4 separate regions of the Homo sapiens genome follow, and regions 2, 3 and 4 are each reported to be linked to region 1. Evidence: microRNA targets listed by miRTarBase, many of them from high-throughput screens and not tested one by one. Region 1 holds a microRNA gene; each other region holds the end of a gene's coding sequence.
What was found. Region 1 holds the annotated microRNA hsa-miR-4668-3p (GAAAAUCCUUUUUGUUUUUCCAG, at 4,241-4,263, opposite strand). A microRNA usually pairs through its seed, bases 2 to 8, with sites in the 3' UTR of a target mRNA and lowers its output. Matches are read on the target gene's strand: a 7mer-m8 pairs with bases 2 to 8, a 7mer-A1 pairs with bases 2 to 7 and ends in A, and an 8mer does both.

Region 2: miRTarBase lists DNAJC10 as a target of hsa-miR-4668-3p. Seed matches in the 3' UTR shown: 7mer-m8 at 3,328-3,334 and 7mer-m8 at 5,597-5,603.
Region 3: the mRNA of TMEM164 is a reported target of hsa-miR-4668-3p. Seed matches in the 3' UTR shown: 7mer-m8 at 863-869, 7mer-m8 at 4,024-4,030 and 7mer-m8 at 4,697-4,703.
Region 4: the mRNA of SLC15A4 is a reported target of hsa-miR-4668-3p. Seed matches in the 3' UTR shown: 7mer-m8 at 1,622-1,628 and 8mer at 1,667-1,674.

The regions. Positions count from the first base shown.
Region 1 is chr9:111,929,290-111,936,409 of GRCh38, reverse strand. It overlaps MIR4668 (microRNA 4668), which reads right to left and starts at 4,310; the gene lies at 4,241-4,310. It overlaps UGCG (UDP-glucose ceramide glucosyltransferase), which reads right to left. Exons shown (of 9, transcript NM_003358.3): 6 at 6,732-6,910; 7 at 5,053-5,139; 8 at 4,051-4,240; 9 at 1,041-3,583. The coding sequence ends at 3,413.
Region 2 is chr2:182,776,209-182,783,328 of GRCh38, forward strand. DNAJC10 (DnaJ heat shock protein family (Hsp40) member C10) reads left to right here. Exons shown (of 24, transcript NM_018981.4): 24 at 913-7,120. The coding sequence ends at 924. Among named protein-coding and RNA genes, the nearest start is that of DNAJC10, 64 kb to the left of the region's middle.
Region 3 is chrX:110,172,803-110,179,922 of GRCh38, forward strand. TMEM164 (transmembrane protein 164) reads left to right here. Exons shown (of 7, transcript NM_032227.4): 7 at 443-4,986. The coding sequence ends at 649. LOC124905230 reads left to right here and starts at 2,971. Exons shown (of 2, transcript XM_047442708.1): 1 at 2,971-3,015; 2 at 3,114-4,986. The coding sequence starts at 2,971. The coding sequence ends at 3,596.
Region 4 is chr12:128,788,254-128,795,373 of GRCh38, reverse strand. It overlaps SLC15A4 (solute carrier family 15 member 4), which reads left to right. Exons shown (of 8, transcript NM_145648.4): 8 at 1,018-2,180. The coding sequence ends at 1,178. Among named protein-coding and RNA genes, the nearest start is that of SLC15A4, 32 kb to the left of the region's middle. RefSeq lists enhancers at 91-230, 3,295-3,454, 3,006-3,506, 3,505-3,594, 5,659-5,758.

The DNA of each region.
Region 1 (7,120 bases):
ATCCCTTTTAGACTGTGTCTTACGGCTCCGATAACAGAATACCATAGACTGGGTGGGTTATAAACAACAAAACTTTCTCAGTTTTGGAGGCTGGAATGTTTAAGATCAAGGCCCTGGCAGATTTAGTGGCTAGTAAAAGCTGACTTTCTGGTTCATAGCTGGTCACCTTTTTGCCGTATCCTCACATGGCGGAAGAGGCAAGAAAGCTCTCTGGGGTTTCCTTTATAAGCATCAATCCCATCCTGACGGCTCTGATCACCTACCAAAGGCCTCACCTTGAAAGACCCTCCTCACATTGGGCATTAGGTTTCAACACAGGAACTACGGAGAGACAAAAATATCAGCTGAGAGCGGATTCTTTCTACCCCGGATTTGTTCTCCAGTTAAGAACATTCTTTTCTCATGGGATGGTGGTAAAACAGGCCTGTAAAGGCTTCCAGCTTGGGAGGGACCTGGCCTTGGAAAGTATGTAAGGTGCATCTCCCATCTGGGTCTCAAGTAATAATGCCACTCCATTCCTTCCTTTGGATTTACATTTTCTAGCCATTAGAGTGGTAAGATCTAAAAGGCTGAGTTCAAGCTGTGAGCCCGGGGGGAGAGGGGCCCAAAGGACCACTGGCTCTTTTCTAAAGGTCATTACGAGCCAGTCATTCTCACAGTAGAATCACGGGTAGAAGAGCTCAGGCCTCACCCAAAATAATTACACCAAAATCTATGTGGGCAGGGCCCAGGGTGTGTGTGTGTGTTGTGTACAGGGCCCAGGGTGTGTGTGTGTGTTGTGTACAGGGCCCAGGGTGTGTGTTGTGTATTTTTTTTTTTTTTTACAAGTTCTCCAGGTGATTTTAACAGGCAACCAATGTAGAAAAGCCATACTTAAGTCACAGGACTGCCTATGTCCTTATTTATTTTACCTATGGCTCAGGTAAAAGGAAGATTTCAAAAGGAATACTTGACAGAACTCTTCTAATAATTCTGATGTGAATGGTGGAACATGCTACTTATAAAAATACAGAAGAACAAAAAATACACTATTGCTAACGTTTTGATTGTATTCAAATTTTTATTTTTTGAACAAAAATTTAAGACAATGATTTTAAATAATAAAACATGGTATATATTCTAGACACTGGTTTTTTTTAAAGATTTATTAAATTTAGACTCCTATAGTTCTGTTGTGATGCTTTCTTCAACATTTATATTATTTCTTACCATTTTATCATCACTCCAAGCTTGCTAAACAAAGAATCTCTCTGTTAAGTGAAGTTTTACATTAAGGAAATACTCCACTAGCACACTGAACAAACCTACAGAACTGTCCTAGTTTATATTTACAAAACACAAGAAGTCTGTCCAGCCATTTTGGTTTTGTTGTTACACTGTCCATACTGAGATCAGCAGAGAGCTAAGTAATACACAAGATTACGCTTCGGCAGTGCAAAGGATGGCATCAACCAAACTTCATTAAACAGACCAACAAGTACAAACATGGTGAGCAAAGTTCAACTCAGGTAATAGTGATTAAAAACAAAACATGTAGTGGGTCACAACCAGACTGGTTTTCACTGTGCAACTTTCCTCAGGGAATAATACCCATTCACAGAAAGAAAGGAATATGCATCCAAGCCTTTGTTCATAAAGAAAATGCCCTTCAAACAAATTCATCATAAGGCTAAAAAAAAAAAAAAAGAAAGAAAAAAGGATGAAGCAGTTTGGCCCAGAGAAAAGCTTAAATATAATGTGTATACATACTTATAGATATGTTGCCATTTAAACCATGGATATAGACATTTGACAATTAAATGAATTGGCTCAGTAAAGTGAAAAAGTGTTTTCTATAAATATGTAGTTATTGCTGATATGCTACACATTATGCTTTGACATGGAGACTGTAGTAACTCAGAATTTAAAGCTGCCATATTGCCAGTGTTAGCCCTGCAGTAGGCATTCCTGTGGACAACATGCCATCCAATCCTGAAGAAAAAGCAAAACACCACTACTTAACAAAGAAAAGGCTTATGCACTGTCCCTTACATTTTTGTTTTTTTTTTTTAAAAAAACAAAACAAAACAGAATCAAGTCCAGTTCACCACAAGTTAAGCACAACCTGGCGAGCAAGTTTAGCGGCATGATGGGGAGAAAACAGTGAGGTACAGCATGCATTTACAACCAGCGCTGATCTAGTCTATTTTGTCATATAAACTTGAATACAAAAATCCAATTTAAATAAGACTAGACTTACTATAATAGTAAACAAACAAAAACAAAAAACAAAAAAAAAAAACACACACAGTAGACTTAGTTTGATACTGATTAATTTTAAGAGTAAACTCATCCTGTCCCCTCTTAATACTCTACTGCAATTTATTGATGGCTAGAATATTTACTGACTTAAAAAAGGTATTAAATACTTGTATCATGAAATTACATTCTTATTAACAATAAGACATACTGTGTAAGAAAATAGCTCATGTGTGAAATGTGTCTGAAATGCATTTTTTCCTTACAACTATCAAAACATCCACTCACACTAAAATGAAACCACTCCCAACCCCCCCTGAAAAAATGTTAAGGGAAGACGGGGTGGGCTGGGGGAGGAGCAAGGAAGGAAAAGATTTAGCTATACTAATTACAGCACAGTGATTAACAATGGTTCAAGACAGAACCAACAAGAGTTGGTCAAAAAGATGCCTTCAATACATGGCTACAATTAAAAACCAAACTCAGCCGCTTTTGGTTCATTGCAGTGAGACCAAAAAAATTATCTCTCACAGATTCATATAAATACTAGACTCCAGCTCTTATATCATTTTTTTTTAAGTTTTTCTGTTTGTTTCTGCAAGGCCTAGCTATCTTATTACAATTTATATTTGCTCTGCAACAACTACAAGAGGTAGGCATAAAGCATGAAAAAGTTTCTCAGTTAGTACCTCGCCATGTGTTGTTCACTGCACAAAACCATTCACTTTGGACATGAATAGTCATTCCTTCTATTATCTTCTAAACTCTAAAGCAAAGCTGCTGCCACCCGTAAATGTTCTAAAAGAGTGTACTCACAAGTAAGAAACTTTCTCTACTGAAGGATACTGTCACAGAGTTTGTTGCAGAGCATCTATATATATATTTATTTATTTATTTTAAAAAAATAAACAACAATGATGAACGAACCCAGGTTCCTAGAACCAATTCTCTTGATTCTCTACTTCCACAAAATAAAGTGTATCATTTGGCCAAGACTACAGATGTGTTTTTTTTTTTTTTCACAGATGCAAGTGCCATGCAAAAATAAATTAAAGAACAGATACCAAAACATACATGTGATAAAACTACAGAAGGTAGATTTTTAAAAGCATTTATATAAACATAATTTATAATACTTCTCTTTTTTCCTTTATATACAGTCACAAAGCTGTAGTTATACATCTAGGATTTCCTCTGCTGTACCCCCACAGCGTAATCTGTAGCGACCAGTTCTCCAGCTTATAGTTGGGTCCCATAATGCAGACAAAAAAATGTATATTGTCATGGATTCGCGGATGAACCAGGCGACTGCATAATCAAGTTTTGAAAAACACAGTGTGCCACCCTAGGAATGGAAAAAAAAATTTTTTAATTTCACTCACTGTCAAACTAAAGACAAGGTTAAAAAATTAAATTCTTGGATTTCACTTTTCTAAGTATACTATGTAAAATCAAGTCTGCTTCCTTATGTAATTTAACTGCCATGTTATACCGTTCAAGAAAATGCTAATTGTTAATGAAGCATTAAAATAACTGCTATCTTAATGTCTTATTAGTTTCAATACTCACTGATTTAATTAACTTCATGTTTTTGGAAACTTAATAAAAGCGATTATATAACCAATAGAAAGTTGCAAATCGACTTAAGTTTTGCATCAACATTCCACTAGAGAAAGTCATGTTCAAACCCGAGACTAACCTACAATGGGAAGCTGAAGAATGGCTCAGATACATTTCCTTCAACTTTTTCTAAATTGAAATAGTTCTAGTTCCACCAAGGGACTGCCAACCTTTTCATGCCTATCCACATACCTGGACACCCCTGAGTTGAATGTAGTCAAATATAAACCATGCCAGGCAATGACACATGAAAAATACCATAATATCCCATCTGAACACATGGTGGGCTGCCCATCCAATAATTAAACTGGCAACAAAGCATTCTGAAATTGGCTCACAAATTATTGTAGCAGGAAGCATGTTAATTCGTAGTTTGGTCCACCTGGAAAAACAAAAAGGATTTTCTTTAAAACAATATCCTGGCTACAAGACAAATCCTTTTTTTTTTCCCTCAAATAATCAATTTTTTTACCCTGTGATAGAAAGACCATTCTCTTTAAACTTTTTTTGTTTTGTTTTTTTTTTTTTACTTGAGACGGGGTTCTGCTCTGTCACCCAGGCTGGAGTGCAGTGGCACTCACTGTAGCTTCAATCTCCCAGGCTCAAGCGATCTTCCCACCTCATCCCACCAAGTAGCTGGGACCACAGGTGTACACGCCACCACACCTGGCTAATTTTTGCATTTTTTGTAGAGACAGGGTTTCACCATTTTGCCCAGGCTGGTCTCAAACTCCTGGGCTCAAGCAGTCCTCTCGCCTTGGCCTCCCAAAGCGCTGGGATTACAGGTGTGAGCCACCACACACAACCTAAAAATTTTTTTTAATGACTCTCTTTTCTATTTTTGTCTAGGATGTCAAAGAAAAATGTCTTTAAATTCATTTGTATGGCCTACGCTCTGATGAATACAGATAATAAAATTTAATCAGCACAGAAAGTTAGAAAATAAAGATCAGCATATTAAAAAATTCAGTCTCAACATTTCTCTAATGAGTGCTTTCAGTGTTATACAGCAAATAAAATACATTTAGACATTAAATTTATCTTAAACACAGACGTTAAACTCTATTTTCTGCAACTAAACAAAAATCTTCAACCTTTAGGTACATTCATTTAACTACATTAAACCTGTAAAAATTACCACCCCCCTCCCCACTTTCCTTTTAACGAAGTATAAAAAGAAAACAGTTGATTTACCTGATCATTCTGGATTGAAACTGAGAAATTGAATATGAGCCAGAGTTTTGCATTGCAACTTGAGTGGACATTGCAAACCTCCAACCTCTGAAAATTAAGATAATTAGAAAATAAGTTATGATGATGAACACATGCAAGCGTAACTGGTTATGCATTCAGTAATCATTATAAAGACCAGGCAACTGCCGGTATTCAGGGTGAGCCCAGCTTTCATGATTAGCACATGACTTAAGGTCTACCATACGTATGGATGTTTTAGCAATTATGCTGGCCCGTGACAGCACCATCTAAGAACTAGAAGAAACTGTACCCACCTTACTTTACAATTTAAGAAACTTAAAATGCAGTCATTTTGAAAAAAAATGGAGAGGGCTCCATATTTAATAGATTAGTCTCTGATGACTACTAACCAAACAACAAGACATGTAAACAGAAAGTGGCATTATGGATCTCATGGGAGACACTAGGAAACCATGAACCACATGAACACAATCATGACAGAATTTGTATTTAAAACACACTTCAGTTTTTAAAAAATTTAAAAGAATTCTCACACAAGGCAGTGATCTCCTTTAAAAACAAGTATTTTAGGCTGGATGCAGTGGCTCATGCCTGTAATCCCAGCACTTTGGGAGGCTGAGGCGGGCGGATCACGAGGTCAGGAGTTCAAGACTAGCCTGGCCAACATGGTGAAACCCCGCCTCTACTAACATACAAAAAAAAGTAGCTGAGTGTGGCGGCGGGTGCCTATAATCCCAGCTACTTGGGAGGCTGAGGCAGGAGAATCGTTTGAACCCAGGAGGCGGAGACTGCAGTGAGCCGAGATTGCGCCACTGCACTCCAGCCTGGATGTCAGGGCGAGACTGTCTCAAAAAAAAAAAAAAAAACCAAAACAAAACAAGTATTTTGTGATAGAGAAATGCTAAGTCAGTCATATGAATCTTTCAGTGGCTTCTTAGCAAAGTATCATATAATTCACTGACAAATTTCAAATTTTGAAATGATAGTCTTTAAATTTTCACCTACTAGTTTATGACTGCACTGATAGTTTTAATTCTTCTAAAACACAGAAATTTGTATCTATATAGTAAAAATTCTAAACACAGAGAAACTTACTTTTAATCGCTTTAAAACACATTAATTTGAAAAATGTAGAGGAATCAGAACATTTACCTTCTTCATTAGTACATATCTACAATTCTATAATTAGAATATGAATTACTCTATAAAATTATTGATCTGCTGGGTGTGGTGGCTCATACCTGTAATCCCAGCACTTTAGGAGGCCGAGGTGGGCAGATCACTTGAGTTCAGGAGTTCAAGACCAGCCTGGCCAACATGAAGAAACCCCATCTCTACTAAAAATACAAAAATTAGTGTGCATGGTGGTACATGCCTGTAGTCCCAGGTGCTCTGGTGGCTGAGGCATGAGAATCACCTGAACCCGGGAGGCAGAGGCTACAGTGAGCCAAGATCGCGCCACTGCACTCCAGCCTAGGTGACAGAGCAAGACTCTGTCTCAAAAACAAACAAAATAATAAAATTATTGACCTATTCTGTACTTACTAGCAAAAAAAATAAAATTAAATTAAAAAGCCCTAATCTATAGGTTGAACAAAAAGAATAAACCAACAGAAGTTAGGTAATAAAAATACTATGGCTTCATTTAGTTGTCTTACCGGTCAGCTATCGCTTTGGCCATAAAGTAATCTTCGGCAATGTACTGAGCAAAAGCTATAAGTCCTCCTGCTTGATCCAACACATCTTTTCTCATTAAACAAGACATTCCTGTCACACATTTGAAACCAGTTACATTGGCAGAGATATAGTATCTTGGATGTGAAGTTCCAAAATATACCTGCCCAAAAAACCACAAACGTGTATGATTAGAATTTCATGTTAAAAGCATGGTGTTCACGAACTGTTTTTCCCAATGGTTTTTTTATAAGTATGATTGAGTGAATATCTTATTATTCTTACGTAGACTACCTGAATAAAAAGTGGTAGACAATATTGCTTTCATAGAGCAAGCACAGTTAGTAAGCTAAAAATGCATCCAAATAAAACT
Region 2 (7,120 bases), not on the chromosome of region 1:
GTTAGGAATAAATATACTGGAGCCTCATAACACGTTTTGAATAGCAAATTTTCTTTTGTTCTTGGTGTAATCAGAATGTATTGAAACCCATATTTGTGTTGGCCCCTCTTTGAATCTTTAATCTGTCAAGAAGCAGCACAACCTTTTTCCTGTTACTCTTCAGAAGGCAGTTCAGTTTTACCTTTTTCAAATCGGTGTTACTGTAGATCATACTTAAAAACAGAACAAAGAGTCTATGAATGTTGTAGTGCTTTTAAAATGGAATTTAATACAATCACATGAGGTATCTCGGATTCTTTCCCTATGAGGCGAAAGGAGGACAAAATAGCTCAGCCTCTGGAAAGGGCTAGAGAAGACTGGCTTTATAGCACCATATTAGACAATAGGTTCTACTGTAATCCAGTTCAAACTGCAGACCCCAATAGACAAAGCCTTACAACCTACCTCAAGAATATTTTTTACGAATCTGAAAGGTAGGAAAGAGTTATGAGTCTGTATTTTCTTGGTTCCACTGAACAAACATGTTTTTCTAGTGTTTCGCTATATTAGTTTTCTCAAGATATTTTATTTTGAAAGGTGTAACTTTTATCTCATTAAATATTTGAAATTTAAAAATTGTCATAATCTAAAATATCATACCTGAAATTAAGTTAAAGAGAATACCCAATATGCTTGAAATTATGTAAACCTATATAGTTAGTAATATCTGCTGTGAGCAGGTAAGAACTAGGATATTCTTTTCTTTTTTATTGTTATATTTTGGCAAAGTATATTTCATGTCATGATCCATTAAATAAGAATATTGAGTATTTCTGAAAAAGTAAAATGTTGGTTTGTGGTATTTCACCTTATTTTTAACATTACCAACTCATACTTTCTCCTTTCTCTATCGCCTTTACATTATTATTATAGGATGAACTTTGATAATGTTGAAGATGAAGAAAAAGTTTAAAAGAAATTCTGACAGATGACATCAGAAGACACCTATTTAGAATGTTACATTTATGATGGGAATGAATGAACATTATCTTAGACTTGCAGTTGTACTGCCAGAATTATCTACAGCACTGGTGTAAAAGAAGGGTCTGCAAACTTTTTCTGTAAAGGGCCGGTTTATAAATATTTTAGACTTTGCAGGCTATAATATATGGTTCACACATGAGAACAAGAATAGAGTCATCATGTATTCTTTGTTATTTGCTTTTAACAACCTTTAAAAAATATTAAAACGATTCTTAGCTCAGAGCCATACAAAAGTAGGCTGGATTCAGTCCATGGACCATAGATTGCTGTCCCCCTCGACGGACTTATAATGTTTCAGGTGGCTGGCTTGAACATGAGTCTGCTGTGCTATCTACATAAATGTCTAAGTTGTATAAAGTCCACTTTCCCTTCACGTTTTTTGGCTGACCTGAAAAGAGGTAACTTAGTTTTTGGTCACTTGTTCTCCTAAAAATGCTATCCCTAACCATATATTTATATTTCGTTTTAAAAACACCCATGATGTGGCACAGTAAACAAACCCTGTTATGCTGTATTATTATGAGGAGATTCTTCATTGTTTTCTTTCCTTCTCAAAGGTTGAAAAAATGCTTTTAATTTTTCACAGCCGAGAAACAGTGCAGCAGTATATGTGCACACAGTAAGTACACAAATTTGAGCAACAGTAAGTGCACAAATTCTGTAGTTTGCCGTATCATCCAGGAAAACCTGAGGGAAAAAAATTATAGCAATTAACTGGGCATTGTAGAGTATCCTAAATATGTTATCAAGTATTTAGAGTTCTATATTTTAAAGATATATGTGTTCATGTATTTTCTGAAATTGCTTTCATAGAAATTTTCCCACTGATAGTTGATTTTTGAGGCATCTAATATTTACATATTTGCCTTCTGAACTTTGTTTTGACCTGTATCCTTTATTTACATTGGGTTTTTCTTTCGTAGTTTTGGTTTTTCACTCCTGTCCAGTCTATTTATTATTCAAATAGGAAAAATTACTTTACAGGTTGTTTTACTGTAGCTTATAATGATACTGTAGTTATTCCAGTTACTAGTTTACTGTCAGAGGGCTGCCTTTTTCAGATAAATATTGACATAATAACTGAAGTTATTTTTATAAGAAAATCAAGTATATAAATCTAGGAAAGGGATCTTCTAGTTTCTGTGTTGTTTAGACTCAAAGAATCACAAATTTGTCAGTAACATGTAGTTGTTTAGTTATAATTCAGAGTGTACAGAATGGTAAAAATTCCAATCAGTCAAAAGAGGTCAATGAATTAAAAGGCTTGCAACTTTTTCAAAAACCTGTTAGAATATGCTTTATTGTGTTTTGAGGAGTTTTCCTTTTTTTCTTTTCAATATCACTTTATCCTGCTCACCAGTATTTCCTCATAAGGGTTATTATAGCCATAATTAATGTTAAAATAGACTTTGTTCTTCATATTCTCCCATCTTTTTCGCTACTATATACTCTGTCTGGATTCTGCTGTATGCCTGTTGGCATATATGGAACAGTCACCACTTGTCACACTTAACACCAGCTTTTTGAATTATGATCAGTAATGGCAAGAGCCTTTCATTCTCGAATGTTTAAAGCCTAGGAGTTCTACAAAATTGGCTTCTTTCTACAAGAATCCCAAAATGGAATGCCTAAAGAAGTCTTACTTGGGTAAATACTTACTAAAATATACTGGTTATGTGCATATCACCACACTGGACACTGAGGAGTGTTCAAAAGGAATCTAAGACATGGTCCCCATCTTCCAACTGTCTGTAATTCACTGTTTTGTCATTGAGCTCATAAGGTACTTACATTACTACCTATAAATGTTTCCTGTACTTGTTAGTTGTTGAGAAACATTTTAGGCAGTAAATAAAATAGTAAATATTATGTGTCCTATAATTTGACCTAAGCTGTGTGCCTTTGGAATCAGCTCTAAGCCAGGGCCCCCTGGGAGTCATGTTAAGAAACACGTATCATAAAGTGACATACATCAAGGTTATCTTATATAGTCATAACAGTATTATTGGGTCTTTCAAAAACAGCTGGCAGATTGAGCTTTTAATGGCTATATTGATACAGTAGATAGAGCACCTCTAAGGAGTACCAGGTATAATGTGCCATTTCTCTCAGCAACACCATTTTTGTGTGCAGCTGACCCTCTAACATGGTATCAATTCTAGCTGACCAAAGCACATTCTATCAGGCAGCCAGGCTTGGAAATTAGGTCCATTTAAAGTATGTGGCTTACAGTCAGGTATGGTGGTGTGCGCCTATTGTCCCATCTACTTGAGAGGCTGAGGCAGGAGGGATTGCTTGGGCTCAGGATTTTGAATCCAGCCTGGGCAACATAGCAAGACCCCATCTCTAATAAATAAATTATGTTTTGGGCATTAATGATGTTTGTCTATTCTGATTTCTCAAATTTTATTTAGGTCTTTCATAGCTTTTTTATTTAAAGGTATATGATTAAGATAAAGGAAAAGTAAAATGAAATGTTTATGTAATTTTATATTCTCAAAATTTTCTTTAAATTTGCTCTGTTTTCTGACAGTGCTCAAAGTGGGAATTTTTTTAGAAGTACGGTTATCAAAAAAACACATTTCCTATGGGACACACATTTCAAAGATGTTTAGTACGATAAAATTTTTAGTAAAAGGGTAGCACTTTTAAGTCATTTGAATAGAATATTTGTGTAATATTTAGTCTAGTGTTAGTCCTTAAATCTGCCAACAAAACCAGATAGATGTCTTAAAGTAGGCACATTTATTCCATTGTGACTGTTAAGAAATAATAAAAGATTAAATTAACAAAATGCATTTTAAATTTTTATGATACCTATAGAAAATTGATAATGAAGATGAAAAGTAAATAACCTTTCTGATAATATTCTACTTTACACATATACTGAAAACTTACTTACATATACCCAAATTCTTCTAGTGAAGAAGTTTGTAATATGGTTTGAGTATTTGTCCCCTCCAAATCTCATGTTGAAATATGATCCCCAGTGTTGGATATGGGGCCTGGTGGGAGGTGTTTGGGTGATGGGGGCTGATCCCTCATAAATGGCTTTGTGCCTTCCCCAGTGGTAATGAGTTCCTGCTGTGTTTATTCCTGCAAGAGCTGGTTGTTAAAAGGAACTTGGCACCACCACCTCCTCTCTTTCTCGCTCCTTCTCTGTGTGACATGCCTTCTCCCCCCGTGCCTTCTGCCATGAGTAAAAGCTCCCTGAGACCTCACCAGAAGCTGAGCAGATGCTGGTGCCATGTTTTTACAGCCTGCAGAACTGCAAGTCAAATAAACGTTTTCTTTATAAGGTAACCAGTCCCAGGTATTCCTTCATTGCAATGCAAAACAGACTAATACAGTTTCTTTTCAGTAAGAATTACAAAATTTAGGCCAATGACCAAGCTGAGTATAAATTACTAATCATACACAAAAATGTGTTTCACTGGCTTGAGTCATTTTTCTGTTTAACACTGAATTTACACTTAGATTCTTGTACTGTCACTGAGTCCCCTTGTAAACAGCTAGGTATATTTTGTGAATGGAAACTAGCCAAAAATACAGCCAAAGTCTCAACGCCAAACTGGTCTACATCAGTATGGACTCCAGAAATGCATCTTTCAACCACTTGATTGCATTAAGTAGTCATTTGAGTGCATCACCTAGTGGCCTTTGGTCCTGAAAGTTAGCAATCATCCCCAAAAAGGTCTGTGTTAATAACTGATAGACAATCTTCATTAAGCAACTGCTGTTTTTTTTTTTTAATACTTCAAGTTCTGCAATACATGTGCAGAACATGCAGGTTTGTTACATAGGTATACATGTGCCATGGTGGTTTGCTGCACCCATCAACCTGTCATCTACATTAGCTATTTCTTCTAATGTTGTCCTTCCCCTTGCCCCCTACCCCGCCGACAGGCCCCATTGTTGATGTTCCCCTCCCTGTGTCCATATGTTCTCATTGTTCAACTCCCACTTACGAGTGACAACATGTGGTGTTTGGTTTTCTGTTCCTGTTAGTTTGCTGAGAATAATGGTTTCCGGCTTCATCCCTGTCCCTGCAAAGGACATGAACGCATCCTTTTTTATGGCTGCATAGTATTCCATGGTGTGTTTGTGCCCGTTTCTTTATCCAGTCTAACATTGATGGGCATTTTGGTTGGTTCCAAGTGTTTCCTATTGTGAATAGTGCTCCAATAAACATACGTGTGCATGTGTCTTTATAGTAAAATTATTTATAATCCTTTAGGTATATACCCAGTAACGGGATTGCTGGGTCAAATGGTATTTCTATTTCTAGATCCTTGAGGAATCGCCACACTGTCTTCCACAATGGTTGAACAAATTTACACTCCCACTAACAGTGTAAAAGCATTCCTATTTCTCCACATCCTCTCCAGCATCTGTTGTTTCCTCACTTTTTAATGATCGCCATTCTAACTGATGTGACATGGTATCTCATTGTGTTTTTGATTTGCATTTCTCTAATGACCACTGATGATGAGCTTTTTTTCATATCTTTGTTGGCCACCTAAATGTCTTCTTTTGAGAAGTGTCTGTTCATATCCTTTGCCCACTTTTAATGGGATTTTTTTCTTGTAAATTTAAGTTCCTTGTAGATTCTGGATATTAGCCCTTTGTCAGATGGATAGATTGCAAAAAGTTTCTCCCATTCTGTAGGTTGCCTGTTCACTCTGATCATAGTTTCTTTTGCCATGCAGAAGCTCTTTAATTAGATCCCATTTATCTGTTTTGGCTTTTATTGCCATTGCTTTTGGTGTTCTAGTCATGAAGTCTTTGCCCATGCCTATGTCCTGAATGGTGTTGCCTAGGTTTTCTTCTAGGTTTTTTATGGTTTCAGACCTTACATTTAAGTCTTTAATCTATCAACTTAATTTTTATATAAGGTGTAAGGAAGGGGTCCCAGTTTCAGTTTTCTACATGTGGCTAGCCTGTTTTCCCAACATCATTTATTAAATAGGGAATCCTTTCCCCATTGCTTGTTTTTGTCAGGTTTGTCAAAGATCAGATGGTTGTAGAAGTGTGGCGTTATTTCTGAGGGCTGTGTTCTGTTCCATTGGTCTATAGCTCTGTTTTGGTACCAGTACCATGCTGTTTTGGTTACTGAGCCTTGTAGTATAGTTCGTTCTTTTTGCTTAGGATTGCCTTGGCTATATGGGCTCTTTTTTTTTTGGTTCCATATGAAATTTAAAGTAGTTTTTTCCAATTCTGTGAAGAAAGTCAATGGTAGCTTGATGGGAATAGCATTGAATCTATAAATTACTTTGGGCAGTATGACTATTTCACAATATTAATTCTTCCTATCCATGAGCATGGAATGCTTTTTCCATTTGTTTCTGTCCTCTCTCATTTCCTTGAGCAGTGGTTTGTAGTTCTTGAAGAGGTCCTTCACGTCCCTTGTAAGTTGTATTCCTAGGTATTTAATTCTCTTTGTAGCAATTGTGAATGGGAGTTCACTCACGATTTGGCTCTCTGTTTGTCAATTATTGGTGTATAGGAATGCTTGTGATTTTTGCACATTAATTTTGTATCCTGAGACTTTGCTGAAGTTGCTTATCAGCTTAAGGAGTTTTTGGGCTGAGATGATGGGGTTTTCTAAATATACAATTATGTCATCTGCAAACAGAGATAATTTGACTTCCTCTCTTCCTGTTTGAATACGCTTTCTTTCTCTTGCCTGATTGTCCTGGCCAGAACTTCCAGTACATAGGAGTGGTGAGAGAGGGCATCCTTGTCTTGTGCCGGTTTTCAAAGGGAATGCTTGCAGCTTTTGCCCATTCAGTATGATATTGGCTGTGGTTTTGTCATAAATAGCTCTTATTATTTTGAGATATGTTCCATCATATCTAGTTTTTTGAGTGTTTTTAGCATGAAAGGGTGTTAATTTTATCGAAGGCCTTTTCTGCATCTATTGAGATAATCATGTTTTTGTCATAACTGCTATTTCAAATGTTTGGAGGAAGTAAAATGTCTTTAAAAGAATAAGTGTTGATTTTTGGAAAATATGAAATTGGAAACTTAGAAAACTTGAATTCTAAGTGGCTATTTATATTACCAAGCGGTAAAACATTAGCTAACTAAAACATGG
Region 3 (7,120 bases), not on the chromosome of region 1:
AGTGTATAAAGCTGGGTGAGCCCTGTCTGGTTTGGGGTCAGATGTAGTAAACCTTTGACCACCCCCACTTGATTGATTGCAGTTACGTGGAGGCAGGGCCCACGCTGTGGGCTGTACTTTTAGCCTGTAACACCTCTCCGGGGTCTAGGCACATAGTAGATGCTCAGGAATGGCAACAAGTTCTGGGCCCAAACAGAAGGCAAGACCGTGAGCAAAACTGAATAGCTTTTCCACTAGACGGCCCTCCGCCATCACCTCCAGAGGCCTCTAGCTTGACTCACTCAGAAAACCGAGGGGAGAGAAGAAATCCCTTTATAAACAGGTGGGGATTGGTCAATCCCTCCTTGTCTAGTCCCCCATTAGGTAGAGATGGCTGAACTGGCAGAAGCCAGAGAAAGCCTAAGGATGGTGAACGCTCACTCTACCTCCCTTGTCCCTGCAGGTCACCGAAGTGAATTTGAACAACATGCTGTGTCCGGCCATCTCAGACCCATTCTACGGCCCCTGGTATCGCATCTGGGCCTCGGGACACCAGACTCTCATGACCATGACCCACGGGAAGCTGGTCATCCTGTTCTCATACATGGCTGGGCCCTTGTGTAAATATCTGCTGGATTTGCTCCGGCTTCCAGCCAAGAAAATAGACTGAAGGTGCTTATTTTTTTTTTTTTTCCTCCCTGAGGAAGCAAGTCGTGACTTGACTTGGAGAACACCCAGTTCTTGATAAAATCATGGGAGAGGGCAGTAGGATGTTTGGTGTATTTCTTTTTCCTCCTTTCTGTCCCTTTCTTCTACCACTCTTCCTTTCCCAGCTCTTCCCCCTACGATGTCTCCTTGAGCCTGGGGTGTAGTGCTGGGCGCTGGATTTTCCTCCTTCCCTTTGGCTCTCTCTCTGCTCCTAGTGGCCTTACATGGGGAGATTGCAGTGAGCGGCTCTTTCACTCTGCTTGTCGGTGCTTTAACAACAGCTGGTTGAGGAGAAAGGGAACAACAAGTAGTAGTTCTTTTGGCATCGAAGCAATGAGATTGGGTTGTGTTTCATTTCTCCACTGCCAGGGACCTCCAGGCTTATGCTGGCGTCCCATTTAGTCTCCAGCACAGCCCTTACCACGGGGGACTGAGGCCTTGTTTCTATACCAGCGGCAAGCCCAGAGCCGAGGGATTTCACAGCTCGTGGTCAAGACAGAACCAGCCAGATTCTGGTCACTGGTGTCCCATGACTCAAAGTAAACAGCCAACCAGCCACTCCCTCCAGGATGCTGCCTGGGGTGGGAGGTGAGAGCACCACCCAGCCCAAGGGCTAGATTCCATTGAGAGGGTTGGAGATCTATTGCAATGACAAATCCAAAGTGAAGAGGGTCAAGATATATACAGTACTAGGCCAGACCCTGTGTAAGTTCTGCCTGTGAGAGTTGAGAACTGATGCATATCCCAATCAGAAGTGAGCACAGAAAACTGTGATTTGAATCATACACTCTGTTTTAGGAAAATGTTGATAATAGATACCATTTTAATCTTGAGTGCCCCTTAAATGTGTTCCCTCTCCCTTTCCCTCTCCCCCCACCCCTCCCCCTCCCCCCTCCCTCCCTCTTTCCCTCTCTCAGGCAGCTTCAGGGAAGAATGAGCTGGAATTGGCTGGTTGGTTGGTTTTTGAGTTTGGAGAATCCTCGCATCAGGGCCCATTTCTGGAAGATTCTGTAGATCTGTTTCTTGGTTTTACAGGGCCAGTGTTGTTTCCCTAGGGCCAGATTTCTTCAGTGTATCCACACTCAGTGCTGAATTGTTTAATGTGGGGGACATCACGTCCTCCTCATCCTGTCTACCCCCAAATCCCATGTCTAGGTTGAAAGGGGGCTGCCAAAGAATTAAGTCCTCATGGGTGGAGGTTCAGGTGCTCCACAAGGAGGAGCTTTTGTTGAAGGACTTCAGCTCAGTTATGCACGGACCTCAAGCAGGCAGGAAGTGGCTGGGCATTGCTGACTCCACATTGACTCCCACTAGGAACAGATTTGCTTAAGAACAGAAAAGCTCATTTGGTGATTTTGTCTGATGAGCCTCCCTTCCCCTGTCCCACTCTAGGCAACACAGTTGACCTAGACCAGTTCCAGTATTTCCAGTTTGACCGTGTTTGACCTACACTGAGCTTCGGTGCCTCAGTGGTCATAATTTTAGCAAGTGGACCTATAGGAAGCAACCCTGGGAGGGACCGTCCTTCTGCAGAGGCCTGCGGGCATTGAGGCTATCAATCCCCAGGGCTTGGGGAGCAGGAGGGGAGGGCACCAAGTGCTCTTACTCTCCTGAGCTCCTTTTGATGCGTAAGCTTTGTTTTTGGCCCTCTTTGAAGGCAGGGCCAAACTTTTCTTAGTGCCTCTCACCTTAGGGTGGCCCTCCAGGGAAGGTGCTCCTTGAATGGCTGGATTGGCCCTGCCCACCGTCAAACTGCTACATGTAGGAATAGCTGATGAGGAAATACACAAGGCCTCAGTGCCCCTTGGCCTCTTTACAAAAGGAGAAGTTGGAAGGGGATTGTGGGAGGAGCCCCTGGGGGCCTGGTCTGTCCTCCACCAGAACTTGGAGTTGCTGCCAGCAGAGGATCTGTGCCTCAGCTGAAGACTAGCTCCGGAATGTCATAGGGGTGTGACTGTGTAGGCCTTCTCCTCCTCCTCGTTTCTGTGGCATGGCACAGGTTGCCTGGTTGCTCGAGCCTTCCCCATGTTGACATCCTCCACAAGCTTGCCTTTGCTCTGTCTACAGCTTAGTACCCCATTCTGGAGGGCACTTTCTGGTGCTTGGAAGGAGAGAAGAAAGCAAAAGCCACATGCCTGGCATGGCCAAGCCAGAGACAGATCCACCTGTCAGAGGAAGGAAGAAGTAAAGGGGGCATGCAGGGCTTTTGGGGGCCAGATTGGCTCAGAAACATGTAGGTCAAAAGAATAGAGGGGGCCCAGTCTATAGGCTTCACAAGGAGCCATGGCCTGTATTTGGGGCATTGGGGAGCATAAGGCATCTGAACTGGTCCAGATCTCACTCTTATCTTGGGCCAAGCCAACGTGGAGAGAAGCAACCCAACCAGACTCTTGGCAGCCTGCCTTACAGGGTAGCCCACCTTATAGGGTAGCCCTCATATCTGCCCTGTGCCGGCCCTCTACTGCCCCAGCTTTGGTACAGGAGTGAGGGAGAAGCTGGAGCTTGCACACCCAGTGGCCAGTGGGGCTGTCTTCCCAGCTCCTCCTCAGGGCTTTCCTGTCAGTGCCAAGCCAGTTCCCCAGCCAGGTTTCCGTGTGCCATTTGCCAGCGTGTGGGAGCTCTGCGCGTGTGTGAGGGTGTTTGTAGAAGAGGGCAGTTTCCTTTCAAATGGCCTTAGGAAGGGAAAAGAGTACTCCCTCCAGCCCCTAGGTAGCCTTGGCCAGGGATGTGGGCCAAGAACAGTCTGTGGAGCTGGCCAACTTGTGGCATCCACTCCAAATAGCAGAGACCCAGTCACGCCTGCTTCTGGTCCTCCCTGCCCTCAGTATTTGGTTTTGTACACCAAAGATGATCTGGCCCATCTTCCTCCCAGAGGCACAACAGTAACATGTTCCTCTGTCAGCCTGTGAAGGCATGCAGGGTTCTGAAGCCACAGACTCAGTCTCCCCAAGTCAGCAATCTCTTTCTCTCTCTCTCCTCAAACTTCATCGCATTCATAGAAGCTGCTTGCAGGGTCGCCGGGCTAACCAGGGTGATCGGCGAACTTTACCGTACAGTACCTCAGTCTAGCTGTCAGATCACCCCTTTTGCTGTAGCCTCTGTTGAGGTTTTTATATTTGTGATCATTGGTAATTCAGTGTCCTATGAAGTGGGCACAGCTCCCCACAGAGAGCAAGTTGTCAGCAGGTCTCTGTGCACTGGTATTGGGGCAGGGCAGTGCCCTGGGGGTAAGCTAGGTGGCTCAGGGAGTGGCAGAAGGGCCATTTTTCCCTCTGCCAAAAAGACTTCCTTGGATTTGTAGATGTTGACCCAGAGTCCTCTGTCCCCTCCTGAAGAGGATTTTCTTACTGGTTTCTACTGAAGGGGAGGTAGGGGAGGAGGAAAAAAGGACCATGTGTGATGCTGTTAGACAAGACACTGACGCTGATTATGGAGGGTCTCCTGCAGGCCCTTGTGGGCTCCTTGGCAAGGCCCCAGGCTGGGAAGGAGCTCCCCCCACTGCCCATCCTGCCCGCTTTGTGGCGGGTAGAGTCAGTGACAGGGAGGCAGCCCTCCTTTTGTGTATATAGAGTGAGCTGATTTGGGCTCAGGAAAACCTAGTCGCTTGTTGCTCTCGTCTGTGACATTTTTGTACACTGGTTTGCTACTCATGGCAAGAAACAGACAAAGCCCCATGAAAAATAAAACAAAACAAAAGTCATTTCAAACAAAGCTGTTGTTTTGAAAACTCTTGCTTTCTTTTGGTGTCCATTTTGTGTTCTATTTTAAAGAATCTTTCATTTATATTGGTGTTATTGTAGTGAAGAGAATGTGATAGGCTGATCTGTAATGGTTTCTGTCAGGAGCTTAGCAAATGCCTCTGCCCCTCTTCCCCTACCCCTGTCCTTCCTCAGTTCCCAGCTGGGATTGCTATGCACTGGGCAGACCCGTCACTGTCTCCCCTGAACCCCCACACAGTGGCTTCCCTTAGAACCAGTCTTTGTACTCTCCCTAAACAGCAGCAGGCTTAGGATTTTTGTCAGGCTGGTTCTTGCGTGCTCTGTGCCCCCACCAGTTTGCTCACCTCTTGGGGCATTTTGTAATGTGTTTTCTCTGTCTTGTAAAACCTTTTGATTGTACCGAAATGGTATCTGCAGTCGCCTTTGGAAATAAATGGTCATTAATTTGTGTACTTAGCATTCTGAATTTTAGTCTCAGGTGTTTCTGTTGTTGAAGATCCTTGAATGAAAAGGAACCCTCACCATGGGGCTTACTGTTATAATGTTTCTTCATTTACTGTTATTAAAAGATTTATGAGAACCCAGGAGTCCTGGCCTTGCTTCCCAGAACCCTCTCAGAAGGCCCTCTGCTTTGAAAAATAGACAAAAGGGGCCTCTGGCCCTCCGTACTGTGGAAGACCCTCAAAGGACAGCTGGGCTTTCTCAGCACACTTTTGTCCTGGGAGCTGCGTGGCTGGTTGCCCTTGAATTCCCACACATTGCCTACTTCTGCCAGGGACCCAGCAGGCCATTTGCTCTTAGCAGAGGGCTTGTCTGCCGGGCACGTTTGCTGGGCTCTCTGGTACCCAAAGTGCATTGGGCTAGGCTGGAGGACTGAGCTGGAGAAGGCAAACACATTCAGGCCCACTCAACCTAGATTTCCTGAGGGCCAGCTCTGCACCAGCACTTCTCAGCACAGGCCTGCACCCAGCATGGGTCGGACCATGAACAAGATAGCCTTACCCTTTGGAAGCAGACCTGCTTTTCCAAGGCTACCTGCTGAGCAGCCCATGATGACTGTGATTGGCCCTTTTTACACAGGACAGAGGCCCTGTTCAGGCTTTCACCTGGGCTGCTGTTTCTGGAGAGGAGAGGTAGCCAGATAGGGAGGGGTAGCAGAACTGAAAGGCACAGGAAGAAAGGGGGCCAGATATGGCGAAGGGGAAGGACGGAAAGAGGCTGGTGGGGAGGAGGTGAGGAGAGTTGGTTCGTGTCCTTCCCCCATGTGTTCTTTTTCAGGAAGAGAGCTGAAAAAGACAATGACCTAGGCCATTGCCATCCCTACCCTGGGCAGTCTTTGTACAGCTAGCCAGACCTGGCAGCCAGTGCAGGTGGATCTCCTCATTTGCCAGTGTTTGGGCACCCAGGCTATGAATGAGGCAGGGTCTTGCAATTGTGGACTAGAAGATTAGCAGCCTAGAAAAGTCACTTATCTTGCTGCCTCAGGTTCTTAATCAGCAAAGTAGTAGCTCCAACTGCACACCAGGCATGGAGCCAAATCCCTCCCATTACCTCTTAGAATCCCCATCAAAGTACAATTAGCTGACTGGCAATGCTGTCCTTGTACGGTAGGGAGAAAGTGAGAACATGGAGGTTTAGTCATAAATGGAGGAGCTGGAATTGGAAACTAGTTTTGTTAGACCCCAAAGCTCACATGCTCTCCACTCTCCACCAGCTTCCACTGCCTTTCCAGTGTGCTGGCACTGCTGGGTAGACCCTTGCCCAGGGACCCCTGGTCCTTATAGAAGTGGAAAGAGAGCCGGGCAGTGGTGTGGAAGATGAGAGAGAAAGGGGAGGCCCACGAGTGTAGAAAGCAGAGGAATCAAGGCCTGTCAGCAGCAGCCTCAAAGCAGACCTGAAAGGCACAGGAAGAAAGGGGGCCAGGTGAAGGGGAAGGATGGAAAGAGGCTGCGGAGAGGAGGTGAGGAGAGTTGGTTTGTGTCCTTTCCCCATGGGTTCCTTTTTAGGAAGAGAGCTAAGAAAGACGATGACATAGGCCATTGCCATCCCTACCCTGGGCAGTGCATCTGCCCCTACCACCATGTCCATCCCCACCCTAGTCTGTATTCCCTCCTGCAGGCAACAGTCTTTTCCAGTGCAGATCTGCATCACTTCCCTGGGCCACTGGCTCTAGAATATAAAGCCCAGGCTCTTTCATGTAGCATACAAGCCCTGGGCTTTGTAAGCATCTTCAACTACATCTCCTCCACCCCACACTCCCAAAAGAAGCATGCAGAGAAACACTTCACTCCAGCGGGATCGTACTCCCCTTTGGCATGCCACGCCATTTCCCAGGTCCTTGCCATTTGTTTCCTTTGTGCTGTTTTCTCAGCTTCCCACTCTCCCGTTTCATCCTAAGGCCTCCACTCAAAGGTTAGCTCCTCTCTGCAGTCTTCCCTGAGCCCCAGGCTATGTTAGGTGCCAGTCCACTTTGCTCCTACAGCACCTGGTACTAACTCTGGCCATCATTTGCCTCCCTCTTACGTGATTCATTACTGGTCTCTCTCCCTCTGTAGACATTAAGCTCCTTGAGGGCCAGGTGGGGTCTGATTCATCCTCCAGCCCCTGGCACAGGACCCATTCCATGGAAAGTGCTCCGTGAACAAGGATCTTACACCTGAGTGCTAAAATATGGTAGGAGGCACCACTGTTCTCTGATGGAGAACCCTAGGCTA
Region 4 (7,120 bases), not on the chromosome of region 1:
CCATAGTGCCCGGGACTCGGTTGGGTATTCAGTGTATGCTAACTCTTTGTATTAAAGTATGCAGAGGTATCTGCTTGTGTCAGTTTGAGGATGCTAAAACCTGAACATGTTTAAGACACATTCAGAAACCAGCTCATCTCTTCCTTTGATACATTGCCCAGCTGTCGGCCCTGGTGTGTTGGGTGTGTCAGTGACCCATGCAGTGAATCCAGAATTCACGATGTTCAGGCTGTGTCATAGTGCAATCTGTGATGCTAAAAAGTGCACAGGTTCCATAGCCAAGTTACAAAGACGCTCACCTCAGGATTCGATAAAGAGATAGTCAGGCGCTCTTTTGTTATCTTCGCATCTGCCTTCCTCAACAATGCAGTTCCAGGCCAATCATAACTATAAATGGAGGAAGTTCCCCTGAAGTAGTTGAGGAGAGGAACACTGCCTCAGAAAAGGCAGGAAGGAAATAACACCAGACCGGCTAACACTTGTTTCTGGTGGCAAGAACACAGGAAGGTAATTTTTTACTTTGCCCAGCTGTTCTGGTGTGGGGGGATTAGCAGTCACAGGAGGCTGGGTTGGCAGGTTTCCCCTTGCTCCTGATTTGCAGCCTTGTCGTGCGGCCTTAGGCACACTCTCCGTCGACACTGTCCCCTTCACCACCGCATGTGTGTCTGCAGGCCACGCAGGGATTTTCCTGAGTACTGGGGAGCTACCTTTTCTAGTTTCCTCAGGGAACCTCCTCCTTTTACCTTACAGAAGAGAGGGATGGGCTGCTAGGGGCAGGTGGGGGGCTGCAGACAGCCCACCTCCAGAGCCCCCGGTGGCGATGTATCTGACTTCAGGGAGCTTCTTCAGTGGTTTTGAAAGCAAGATGCTTGTGCATTTTGGACTACAGAGACAACATTTGTTACTTTTTTTATGACTCCAGTTAAACCTTAGTGGGAACCAGATTAAATAGTAAAGTCTTGAAAAAATACCTGTAGCAGCGCAGCTTACCTGCCGCTTTCCTTTTGTTTTCTCCAGGTAATATTAACGGCTGCTATTTGAACTATTACTTTTTTCTTCTGGCTGCTATTCAAGGAGCTACCCTCCTGCTTTTCCTCATTATTTCTGTGAAATATGACCATCATCGAGACCATCAGCGATCAAGAGCCAATGGCGTGCCCACCAGCAGGAGGGCCTGACCTTCCTGAGGCCATGTGCGGTTTCTGAGGCTGACATGTCAGTAACTGACTGGGGTGCACTGAGAACAGGCAAGACTTTAAATTCCCATAAAATGTCTGACTTCACTGAAACTTGCATGTTGCCTGGATTGATTTCTTCTTTCCCTCTATCCAAAGGAGCTTGGTAAGTGCCTTACTGCAGCGTGTCTCCTGGCACGCTGGGCCCTCCGGGAGGAGAGCTGCAGATTTCGAGTATGTCGCTTGTCATTCAAGGTCTCTGTGAATCCTCTAGCTGGGTTCCCTTTTTTACAGAAACTCACAAATGGAGATTGCAAAGTCTTGGGGAACTCCACGTGTTAGTTGGCATCCCAGTTTCTTAAACAAATAGTATCACCTGCTTCCCATAGCCATATCTCACTGTAAAAAAAAAATTAATAAACTGTTACTTATATTTAAGAAAGTGAGGATTTTTTTTTTTTTAAAGATAAAAGCATGGTCAGATGCTGCAAGGATTTTACATAAATGCCATATTTATGGTTTCCTTCCTGAGAACAATCTTGCTCTTGCCATGTTCTTTGATTTAGGCTGGTAGTAAACACATTTCATCTGCTGCTTCAAAAAGTACTTACTTTTTAAACCATCAACATTACTTTTCTTTCTTAAGGCAAGGCATGCATAAGAGTCATTTGAGACCATGTGTCCCATCTCAAGCCACAGAGCAACTCACGGGGTACTTCACACCTTACCTAGTCAGAGTGCTTATATATAGCTTTATTTTGGTACGATTGAGACTAAAGACTGATCATGGTTGTATGTAAGGAAAACATTCTTTTGAACAGAAATAGTGTAATTAAAAATAATTGAAAGTGTTAAATGTGAACTTGAGCTGTTTGACCAGTCACATTTTTGTATTGTTACTGTACGTGTATCTGGGGCTTCTCCGTTTGTTAATACTTTTTCTGTATTTGTTGCTGTATTTTTGGCATAACTTTATTATAAAAAGCATCTCAAATGCGAAATCCATGAGCCGGTTCTTTGCGTGGTTTGTCCTCAGTCGCTGCTGGTGTGGCGTGTGGATTCCTCCCCTGTCGTGTAGAAGGCGCAGAGCTTCCCGAGTCGGGAACTGAGGGGAGGGTGGGGAAGTGCGCTCCTGCACAGCCCTCGGATGCTCCGGCGCGTCTCCTGATTCTGCAGCCTCCTCTGCATGGAAGGGTAGTTTCAGCATTTGGAGAAGACAAAAAACAAACCAAAAAACCCTCACGTTGTTGTTCGTTGTGTAATAGAAAGTATAGAAAAACTATAGAAAAATACAAGACATTTCAACCAGTGGAAGTAGGATAGAGTGAATACAGATGACACTCATGGTATCACTGGATCTCAGAGGGGCCGGAGTTGTGAGCCCAGGTTAAAAAAAACGGGGCAGGTTTCGAAAAGCCTTGTGCTACGAAGGATACCACTTTCCGGAGACAGAACTCATGTCTTCAGGATATATCACATGTAAAAATAACCCATGGTGTCAAACAGATTTTCTTCATAAGGCCTTTGCACAAAAGGGGAAAGGCAGGTGGCGTCGGGAGAGCTCTCGGATCCTTCCTCCGGTGCGTTGTGCCCTTGATGCCCCGGGCTGTGTGAACGGTGAGTGAGTAACCACATCCATCCGCTCCGTCTGTCCCGCCAGCCCCTGCTCCTAGCTAGGTGCACCCTCGATGTTACGAGGGAAATTCTCTCCAGAAAGTCAGTTGGAGGGTTGACAGAGTCATCAGGGTACCAGCCTGTGATATTGTGATGAGATAAGAAACAGATGTGGTCTGGGCCCTAAATCCCTGGGACAGAACTCCTGCAACCCCTGTAGATAGGGCACGAGGAGAAGCCCACATTTTCATATTTGCTCTTTGACCCCTTGACCCCAGCTCCTGGCCTAGAGCTGCTAAGGCCTTTGTAATTTCCTGGGTGATGGGAGCATCTTTTGTTCTAATGAGGCCATCTGTGGTGGCTCCTGGACAGCCTCAGGAGAGGGGGTGCTTGCTCGGGGAACCAGTCTGGTGATTGGAGTGGGGGGACTTTCAGCCCTCCCCCTCCCCCACCTCCAGGAAGTTGGGGGGGTGGGGGTAGAAGGTGGAGTCGATCACCAGTGGCCAGTGGTGTGTCATCAGTCATGACTACGTAATGAAGCCTCCATAAAACCCCAGAGGCCTGGGGTTCTGAGAACTTCCTGGTTGCTGAACTCATGGGGGTTCCCCGAGGGTGGCACACCCAGCGGGCATGGGAGCTTCCCGGTCCCCTTCCCACACACCTCACCCTGCACACCTCCATCTGCCGTTCCTCTGTGCCCTTGTCACAGCCTTGATAATAAACGGGCACGCGTGAGTAAAGCGTTTCCCGAGCTCAGAGCTGCTCTGGCAAATCAGCTGAACCTGGAGAGGGAGTTCCTGCTCTGTAGTTGGTCAGAAGCGTAGGTGACAGCCCACTACTTGCGCCTGGCATCTGCCGGGGCGGGCAGCCTCGTGGGCCTGAGCCCTCAGCCCTGGGATCCTGATGCTGCCTCCAGGTGGGTGGTGGCAGGGCATATGCCAGGATATTATAGGATGCTCAGTGTCCGCCGGAGCATCGTGTGACGTGGGGAAGGAGAGCCACTTTCCCATCCTGCATCAGAAGTGTTCTGTGAGAGTAAAGACTGTTTTTTTATCAGACAACTTTTTACATTTTCTTCTGAATTTAGATAGTTGATCAGGTTCACCCTACAGCATGAAGCGGTGATTGAATAAATAAGCATGAAACATGTGCCTGCCCTGAAGACGTCGGTGTGTGTGTAACTGGCTTTTCTTGGCCTCATGAAGCAAACGTCTTCTCGCTCCATGTGAAGATGCTCAGCCAGACTTTCTTTTCGGGGAAGCTGGGCAGGACAGAGCTTTTCATTTCTCCACAGTGTCATGGGCAGATGGGGAGAAAAAGTTCTTAAGACTGACAGGGACCCACTGGGCCTGTGGTCAGTGATCCCAGGGTGAGACTGCGACCGCATGTCCTGCCTGAATTTGCGGACGGGCTGTACAAGTACAGGGTCCCTGGGGCCGGCCTCGTGCCCCCCACCCCCAGGGGCCGAGATGCTGCTTCCCGGAGGATTGGAGAGCGCACAGTACCACATCACATCACACTTCCCAACAGCCCATCATCTCAGAGTCACACCAGGCCCGTCCTGATCACTTCTGAATTCTAGGTAATAAAAAATGGATGATCCTCAATATTACCAATTATTTCACTTGGTGCAAAATCCCATCACCTGGAAAAAAAAGCACATTAAGCAGGAGCGGAATGCTGCAATAATGTGAAACTGCTGTGTGCCGCAGAGTGATACACACTGTTATTAACACGGGCCACATATGTTAATGGGGATTCTCAAACAATGAAGTCACTTGAGTAACTATTTTTAAATGTTCATTCTCACATGTTCTTCTTTTGGAAATAGGGCCTTTTAAAGGAGATAATGCCTACAAAGTGATTTGTTGGACTAGAATCTATTAAGCAAATGAAAAGTACAGAATGTAAAGGGTGAAAGAAAAAGCAGCCGAATGATGGAAAGCTGGATAGTAACAAGAAAACTCAGCATTTGCTGGTTTCCAAATGAGCTAAGCATGCTCAGGTTGTCAAAGGGCTGCATGGAGAGGAAGCCAGCCCAGTGCCAGGGACCTTGTTTTTTCTCTGTTTGACCGAATCCCAAACCAATGCATCGTGAGAGACGTGTCTTGAGACGAGATGAGCAGACACCCCCAGACGTTCAGGGACTAGGCCTGGTCACAGCCTCCCAGTGGTGAGGACGGCACAGAAACCTGTGTTCTGGTCTCTGTGCCGGGCTGTGTCTCTAGTGACATCAAAATTCAGCCACAGAACGCATAGGGAGTTGAGGAGGCCGACAGGTAGCACGGCATTTCCCAGAAACGCAGGATGAGCCCCTTGACCTCTAGGGCTTTGATGGTGGGAGTTGAAGTTGGGCAGGTCCATTGCATAACTCCCCTTACCCATCCCTAGCATCTCCCTGTTGCTTAATCAGAGCTGCTGTCAGGGCAGATTGCTGGAGGTCAGGAGTTTGGGACCAGCCTGGCCAACATGGTGAAACCCCGTCTCTATTAAAAATACAAAAAATTAGCCGGGCGTGGTGGTGCATGCCTGTAACCCCAGCTACTCAGGAGGCTGAGGCAGGAAAATCACTTGAACCTGCGAGGCGGAGATTGCAGTGAACCCAGATCGCGCCACTGCACTCCAACCTAGGTGACAGAGGGAGACTCCGTCTCAAAAAATAAATAAATAAAAACTGTATTGGTATATTAATCCTTTTCTGGAACTCTCAAGTCAATCACGAATCCCTTCTTTCAAGCCTAAAGGACTTCTCCAGACAGCTGTCCAAAAGCGGCTCTGCACGTCTGATTGCAGTGATTGGGGTTGGGAAGGATGCATTTGGAGTCACCTGCGGGTGCTCGGTGAGGGCCTGGATGTTGATGGAGTAGGGACCTGAGGTTCCCAGGCTAAGGAGGTGTCTTGGAAGCCAAGTGAAGGGAGTGTTTCCAGAGGATGGGGTGGTCCACGTGTCACAGGCTCCTGCCGGCAAGCTGAGCTCTGTGTGGGGTCCTGACAGGTTGCAGACAGCTGGAGGAGAGAGGAGACGCCCTCAAGGGACTCACAGAAAAGAGGAATGCAGGGCAAGGGAGGTTTCCACTTTTAAGAATGGAGAAGTGAAAATAAGCTTCTTCCTGAAAGTCTGGCATCGGAGTAAAGTGACTTTTTTTTTTTTTTGAGATGGAGTCTCACTCTGTCGCCCAGGCTGGAGTGAAGTGGCACGATCTTGGCTCAGTGCAACCTCTGCCTCCCGGGTTCAAGCTATTCTCCTGCCTCAGCCTCCCTAGTAGCTGGGATTACAAGTGCCCGCCACCAGGCTCAGCTAATTTTTGTATTTTTAGTAGAGATGGGGTTTCATCATGTTGGTCAGGCTGGTCTCAAACTCCTGACCTCAGGCGATCTGCCCACCTCGGCCTCCCAAAGTGTTGGGATTACAGGTGTGAGCCACTGCACCCGGCCTTTTTTTTTTTTTTTTGAGACGGAGTTTCGCTCTTGTTGCCCAGGCTGGAGTGCGATGGTGAGATCTTGGCTCACCGCAACCTCCGCCTCCTGGGTTCAAGCAATTCTCCTGCCTCAGCCTCCCGAGTAGCTGGGATTAGAGGCATGCGCCACCACCCCAGCTAATTTTGTATTTTTAGTAGAGACGGGGTTTCTCCATGTTGGTCAGGCTGGTCCTCAACTCCCGACCTCAGGTGATCTGCCCACCTCAGCCTCCCAGTGTGCTGGGATTACAGGCATGAGCCACCACGCCCGGCTTTTTTTTTTTTTTTTTTTTTGAGACAGGGTCTCTCTCTGTTTCCCAGGCCGGAGTGCAGTGGTGCAATCATGGCTGGCTGCAGCCTTAACCTCCTGGGATCAAGCAATCTTCCCACATCAGCCTCCAGAGTAGCTGGGACTACAGACACACATTACACCCAATTACTTTTTTATTTTATATTTTGTAGAGTCACGGTCTCACTATGTTGCCCAGGCTGGTTCAAATTCCTGGCCTCAAGTGATACTCCCGCCTCACCCTCCCAAAACACTGGGAATACAGGCATGAGCCACTGCACCTGGTCAGGAATTTAGTAGAGATGGGGTTTCACCACGTTGGCCAGGCTGGTCTCGAACTCCTGACCTCAAGTGATCCACTCGCCTCGGCCTCCCCAAGTGCTGGGATTAGAGGCGAGAGCCACCACACCCAGCCATGTGACTATTATTTTTGTGGGAAAGGGCTGGATTCCTGACCTAGCTCTCTGTGTTTGGTGAAGGCTGGGGTTTGGATTTAGTGAGTCAAAAGTGAGGTGTAAATGGTGCAGATGCTTTTACTGGCCCTTACACACAGCAGGATCCTGAGCCTGGCAAGAGGATGCCAT